Homo sapiens: one gene and its partner. The protein of the gene in region 1 purifies or fractionates together with the protein of each later gene. This does not show direct contact. Each region holds a gene or a part of one and is shown in the gene's direction. Other genes may lie near its edges.

Evidence for each region. The genes of interacting proteins can lie anywhere in the genome.
Region 2: the proteins of PARP12 (region 1) and CASC3 purify together in Homo sapiens (co-immunoprecipitation; one large-scale study listed by IntAct). This does not show direct contact.

The regions. Positions count from the first base shown.
Region 1 is NC_000007.14:140,028,332-140,031,982, reverse strand, and holds part of PARP12 (protein mono-ADP-ribosyltransferase PARP12), read left to right. Parts: intron 1-3,294; coding exon 3,295-3,370; exon of another isoform or gene 3,371-3,371; intron 3,372-3,651.
Region 2 is NC_000017.11:40,143,439-40,147,089, forward strand, and holds part of CASC3 (protein CASC3), read left to right. Parts: intron 1-3,651. UniProt on the Homo sapiens protein: Required for pre-mRNA splicing as component of the spliceosome. Core component of the splicing-dependent multiprotein exon junction complex (EJC) deposited at splice junctions on mRNAs.

The DNA.
Region 1 (3,651 bases):
GGCAAATATTTTCTCTTAGTTTGTTGTTTGCCTTTTGACTTTGCCTGTGAAGTATTTTACCATAAATATATATCTCTTATTATTTTAGTTAAATGTATCAGTGTCTTACTGATTCTGGATTTAGAGTTTTGGTTGATTATGACCCTCCTATTTCTGGAAGTCATTTTTTATTCTTTTCCTATACAAAGCCTACCCTAGACAAGGTTTGGAAAAGTCTCTCTGCTTTCTGAGAGTAGATCTCTCTTATTCTAATTTAGTTTTTAGGGGGCCACAAGAAGATGCCAAATGTCCAAACTAAAAGTGATTCAGACTAAGATATGGGTGATTTGGGGTCTCCTGTAAGCGGAGTGTCACACACTGTTCACACAGATGAAGTGTTCAGTTCTTCTCTCTGACCCATGTGCCAGCAGCTGGTTGTCATTAACTCCAGTAAGCAAGTCTGCCTGGGCCTGCATGGCCAATTGGGAATCTGAGGGTAGATCACTTTCAGAAACAACTTTTCTGTTTACACAATTAATGAGGTCATAAAATGTAATGTCCATATTCAGAAGTCATAATACAGGAGTGTCATGTAAAATTTATTTATGTATTTATTTATTTATTTATTTATGAGACAGGGTCTCACTCTGTCACCCAGGATGGAATGCAGTGACCTGATCACGGCTTATTGCACCTTCCACCTCCCGGGCTCAAGCAATCCTCCCACCTCAGCATCCCAAGTAGTTGGGACCACAGGCATGCGCCACCATGCCCAGCTAATTTTTTTATTTGTTGTGGAGACAGGGTCTCACCATGTTGCCCATCCTCTATGAAAATGTTTCATTCATGTGATTGGGTCTTATTTTTTCTTTTCTTACCTTCTTTTGTGTATATGTATATTTTAAAGGCTATGGTAGAAACTACATGTTCTTCACTTAAGTACAAGTAAATCAATATCTTTGCCCTCCTATCTTTTCTTCCATTTGCCTTCCTCTCAACTTTTTTTAAACCTCAAGAGGCACCATTATTTTATACTCTGAAAGTTTCATTAAATTTACTCACATTTTTACCACTTTGTCCTTTCAGATTACCTTAGATCAGGGGTGTCCAATCTTTTGGCTTTCCCAGGCCACATTAGAGGAAAAAGAATTGGTCCACACATAAAATACACTAACACTAACGATAGCTGAACTAAAAGAATAAAAACCACAAGAAAATCTCATAATGTTTTAAGAAAGTTTACAGATTTGTGTTGGGTCACATTCAAAGCTGTCCTGGGTTACATGCAGCCTGCGGGCTGCAGGTTGGACAAGGCTGCCTTCGATGAAGATTTGTTGGAAAACTGTTTTTGGTTTGTCTGAATATGTATGTACGTATGTATGTATGCATGTATGTATGTATGTATTTTGAGATGGAGTCGCACTGTCGCCCAGGCCAGAGTGCAGTGGCATGATCTTGGCTCACTGCAACCTCCGCCTCTTGAGTTCAAGCGATTCTCCTGTCTCAGCCTCCTGAGTAGCTTGGACTACTGGCGTGCGCCACCATGCCCGGCTAATTTTTGTATTTTTGGTGGAGATGGGGTTTCATTATGTTGGTCAGGCTGGTCTTGAACTCCTGATCTCAAGTGATCTGCCCACCTCGGCCTCCCAAAGTGCTGGGATTACAGGCGTGGGCCACTGCGCCTGGCCAACATGTATTTATTTTGCCATCAATCTTGAAGGAAATTTTCACTGGGTATAGAATTTTGGGTTGTAGGGATTTTCTCTTGGATCATTGTGATGATCACTCCACTGTATTCTGGCTTCCACTGTTGCTTTTGAGAAATTGCCTGTTGGTCTAACAGGTGCTTCTTTGACAGTAATCACTCTTTTTTCCTTTGGCTACTTTTAAGAGCTTCTGTTTGTCTTGGAGGTAGGCATCCTCACTAAAGTGTATCTAAGTATGTGCTTTTATTTATCATGGTTGAGATTCTTTGGGCTTCTTAAGCTGCGGATAGGTGCATCTCATCAGTTCTCTTTGAAAATCGCCTCCACTGTCTTGTCTCTCCTCTCCTAGAGCTTCACTTAGGTTCTGATCATATTCAAGTTCTCACTGTTCTCCATGTCTCAACTTCTTTCCTGCATTTTCCATTTCCTTGTTGCTGTGGGCCACATTCTGGACAATTTCATTTCACATATGTTTCAGCTCACTGATTCTTCCTCCAGCTGGTCTAATCTGCTATTAAGCCTGTCCACTACACTTTTATTATTAAAGATTGTACTTAATTCTGTAAGTTCTATTTGGTTCTTTTTTAGATCTTCCAGGTCTTTTTATAGTTTCCTGTTCCTTGCATATGTTTTTAAAGTTTGTCTTTTTTTTTCCTTTAAACATAGGAAGAATAATTGTTTTGTAATCTCTCTGATAATTTCAGCATCTTAAGTCTTTGTGGGTCTGTTTTTGGCTGATTCTTGCTGGTAGGACCTTGCTTAGTTATTTTTGAACTGTGCCATTTTCCCAGGAAAGTTATTTGTGGGAGTTCTTTGAGGCTTAGGATGAAGGTATATGTTTCATGCCAGCAGAAACAGAAGGTAGATCTATTTAGAAAGAACAGTGTATTCTGAAACTTAATAGGAATGATTTGTAATTATAGTTTCACAGTCCTTGTTCCTGAACCCTTGATCCATATGTCTTTTGAACTGCTTTTATTTAATTTTTAGAAAGATAATGTGATGCTTGTATCACGTGACACTCTGTATTTTAGCACATTAATATTTCTGCAGTAAACAATATGCATAGTCAGTTTAAGAAGGATAGATACAGATCACAGTGGCCTCTTACTAACTTCAGTCAAATTTCTACTGCCAAATGACTTTTGATGTCACTTTTATGTTTTTCAAAAAATGTTTTATTTCATATTTTCTCCTGCTTTTCCTGAGCTGTATAAAAAGTTTTAAAATGTCAATTATACCTCATCGAGGCCTTAAAAAAATGTCTTTAGAGCTCTTAGAATTTCAGAATTGTGGATAAAGGTTTATGGCTGTGTGTGTGCTCCTTTAACCATGTACTCCATCCCTTTTATCCCTTTTGTGTGGTAGTTGGGACACAGGCGAGAAATAGATCTCTCAGGACTGTTTGGAGTTTGGCTACATAGGCAAAGATAAAAGTGCTCTCATGTTGTGAATATCGTGCTAACATTCTTCCTTGCCTTCTACCTGCTCTTGAAATATGATGTGCTGAGACTCAAGACTGGTGATATTGGCTAGCAGAGACCACCTATGGTATATTTGCTTTGTGTAAGAATAAAATGTCTACGTGTTTTTGTTTACATTTTTGTAGCAATACCAAGTTTCCAGGCCCGAAGAGCATCCCAGACTATTGGGACTCCTCTGCCCTGCCAGACCCAGGCTTTCAGGTAGGGGACGCATGCGCCTGGGGCTGGACAGGAAGGTGTTCTGTAGAAGTGGGTGTGTGTGAACAGACTGTGCCATTCCTCAACACTGAAGAAGCTGTAAGGCTGGGGCTAATTGGGGCAGGAGGGCAGTGACAGATGTGGGCTTTATTTTTGTTTTTGTTTTTTGCAGAGGGTTTTGTTTTTTCACCACCCAGGAGTTGGCTGTGGCTCTGAGGGGAGGGGTTGTCTTGTGGAGGGAGGAGGATGAGCGTGAAATTTGCTAGAAAGGGCAGAAATGAGTT
Region 2 (3,651 bases), on another chromosome or scaffold:
CTTGTCTCAGAAAATTTAAAAAATAAAAATGACTAAGATCTAGAATTTCATATTTGCAACATGGTGACTACAGTCAACCAGTAACTTATTGTACATTTAAAAATAACTATTGGCTGGGCACAGTGGCTCATGCCTGTAATCCCAGCACTTCGGGAGGCTGAGGTGGGTGGATAACAAGGTCAAGAGATTGAGACCATCCTGGCCAACATGGTGAAATCTCGTCTCTACTAAAAATACAAAAATTAGCTGGGCGTGCTTGCACGCCCCTGTAGTCCCAGCTACTCAGGAGGCTGAGGCAGGAGAATCGCTTGAATCCGGGAGGCAGAGGTTGCAGTGAGCCGAAATCAAGCCACTGCACTCCAGCCTGGTGACAGGGCAAGACTCCATCTCAAAAAAAAAGTATATATATATATTAATAAAAGAACGTAATTGAATTGTTTGTAACAAAGGATAAATGCTTGAGGCGATCCATACCCCATTTACCCTTACATGATTATTACACATTGTATATCTATATAAAAATATCTCATGGGCCGGGCTTGGTGGCTCACACCTGTAATCCCAGCACTTTGGGAGGCCGAGGCGGGTGAATCACCTGCGGTCAGGAGTTCGAGACTAGCCTGGCCAACATGGCGAAACCCATTTTCAGTCTCTACTGAAAATAAGAAAAATTAAGTAGGCGTGGTGGCAGGTGCCTGTAATCCCAGCGACTCAGGAGGCTGAGGCAGGAGAATCACTTGAACCCAGGAGGTGGAGGTTGCAGTGAGCCAAGATTGTGCCATTGCACTTCATCCTGGGCAACAAGAGGGAAACTCTGTCTCAAAAAACAAAAACAAAAACAAAACTCATGTACTACATAAATATATACCTACTGTGTACTCAACAAAAATTAAAAACTTTCTTTTTCTTTTTTTTTTTTTGCTTGAGATGGAGTCTTGCTCTGTAACCCAGGCAAGAGTGCAGTGGCATGATCTTAGCTCGCTGCAACCTCCACCTCCCGGGTTCAAGCGATTCTCCTGTCTCAGCTTCCCAAGTAGCTGGGATTACAGGTGCACACCACCACACCCAGCTAATTTTTGTATTTGTAGTAGAGACGGGGTTTTACCATGTTGGCCAGGCTGGTCATGAACTCGTGAACTCAGGTGATCCGTCCGCCTCAGCTTCCCAAAGTACCGGGATTACAGGTGGATTACGGGTGTGAGCCACTGTGCCCAGCCCTCTTTTTTTTTTTTTTTTTTTTTTAAAAAAGAGGCAGGGTCTCACTCTGTTGCCCAGTCACCCAGGCTGGAGTGCAGTTGTGGGGTCACAGCTCACTGCAACCTCAAACTGCTGGGTTCAACCAGTCCTCCTGCCTTGACCTCCTGAAGTGCTGAGATTACAAGCATGAGCCACCATACCCAGCCAAAAAAAAAAAAAAATTAAGTTTTTTTTTTTTTTATTGAGATGGAGTATTGCTCTGTTACCCAGGCTGGAGTGCAATGGCTCGATCTCAGCTCACTGCAACCTCTGCCTCCTGGGTTCAAGCGATTCTCCTGCCTCAGCCTCCCGAGTAGCTGGGATTATAGGCGCATGCCACCACGCCCGCCTAATTTTTGTGTTTTTAGTAGAGATGGGGTTTCACCATGTTGGTCAAGCTGGTCTCGAACTCCTGACCTCAGGTGACCCACCCACCTCGGCCTCCCAAGGTGCTGGGATTACAGGCATGAGCCACCGTGCCCCCCATTTTTTTTGTTTTGTTTTGTTTTGTTTTTTAAGACGGAGTCTCATTCCGTTGCCAGGCTGGAGTGCGGTGGTGCAATCTCGGCTCACTGCAGCCTCCGCCCCGCCTGGTTCAAGTGATTTCTCCTGCCTCAGCCTCCCGAGTAGCTGGGACTACAGGTGTGCACCACCACGCTCAGCTAATTTTTGTATTTTTAGTAGAGACGGGGTTCCACCATGTTGGCCAGGATGGTCTCCATCTCTTGACGTCGTGATCCACCCACCTCGGCCTCCCAAAGTGCTGGGATTACAGGCGTGAGCTACTGCGCCTGGCCCAAAATTTTTTTAAAAAGAGAAAAAGCCCAGATAGAGAAGATAGAGAGCGTTTGGGAACTTGGGAGTAATTAGGTGTGACTGGAGCATTGTTGGGACAGGATAGGTATTAGAAATAAAGACAAATTGGTGAGCAGGGGCCACTAATTGGTGAGGTGGGAGGATTGCTTGAGCCTGGGAAGTGAAGGTTGCAGTGAATCAAGATTGTATCACTGTACTCCAGCCTGGGCAACAGAGCAAGACCCTGTGTCAAAAAAAAAAAGTGATGCGATTGGATTTATTTATTCATTTTTTAAAAATTTTTATTTACTGTTTTTTGTTTGTTTGTTTTTTTAATTTTTAGTAGAGATGGGGTTTCACCATGTTGGCAAGGCTGGTCTCGAACTCCTGACCTCAAGTGATCTGCCGGTCTTGGTTTTTCAAAGTGCTGGGATTACAAGCATGAGCCACTATGCTTTGTCTGATTTAAATTTTAAAGATGTGTTTTTCAGATCCAGAGAACACTTGCATCAGAAAATCCAATTAGCCATTCTCTACTGAAACAGACTCTTGGGAGGGGCATTGGAGACTCAGACATTTATGTATTAAAGAATATCCCAGGTTGATGCTATGTACTGTAAAATTTGAGGATTCTTTTATAGCAGTTATTTTGTCCACAGTGAAGAGAAACAAGATCAGAGACAGAAAAGCTAGTTAAGAAAGCTATTGTAGGAATCTAGTTAAGTAGTGAGTGTGGCATGGAATAGAGTGGTGATAGTGAAAATAGAAGTGGACAGAATTCAGAGTTAGAAGTGGTTTTGGGATGGGGAATATTTGCTGCAGTACAGATGCTTTTTGATTTATGGTGTAGTTACATCCCATCCTGGTAAACCCATCATAAGTTCAGAAGTTCAAGATAACTTCTTGGCTAACTTGGAGCAGCAACTCTCTGTTGCTATCCAGCATCTCGAGAAGTACGATTTCTTTTTTTTTTTTTTTTTCTTTTTTTAAGACAGAGTCTCACTCTGTCTCACTCTGTCTGCAGTGGCGTGATCTCAGCTCACTGCAACCTCTGCCTCCCGGGTTCAAGCGATTCTCGTGCCTCAGCCTCCCAAGTAGCTGGGATTACAGGCGCACGCCACCATGCCTGGCTGATTTTTTTTGTATTTTTAGTAGAGACGGGGTTTCATCATGTTGGACAGGCTGGTCTTGAACTCTTGACCTGGTGATCCGCCTGCCTCGGCCTCCCAAAGTGCTGGGATTACAGGCATGAGCCACAGTGCCTGGCCTCTTTTTTATTTTTTTAAAAATATTTTTAATAGAGATGAGGTCACTCTGTGTTGCCCAGGCTGATCTTGAACTGGACTCAAGGGATCCTCCCACCTTGGCCTCCCAAAGTGCTGGGATTACATGTGTGGTGAGCCACTGCACCCAGCTGAGAAGTACAGTTTCTACTGAATGTTTATGGCTTTCATACCACCATAAAGTCAAAATTATAAGTTGAACCATCATACATCAGGGACCGTCTGTAGTCACTAGAGAATGGAAACGTTGGAGAAACTGACAGGCAATATGGAGTGTTCATTGAGTTTTGGGGATTGTGAATTTATAGCAGCTTACCATTCTATATGTAAGGGAGTT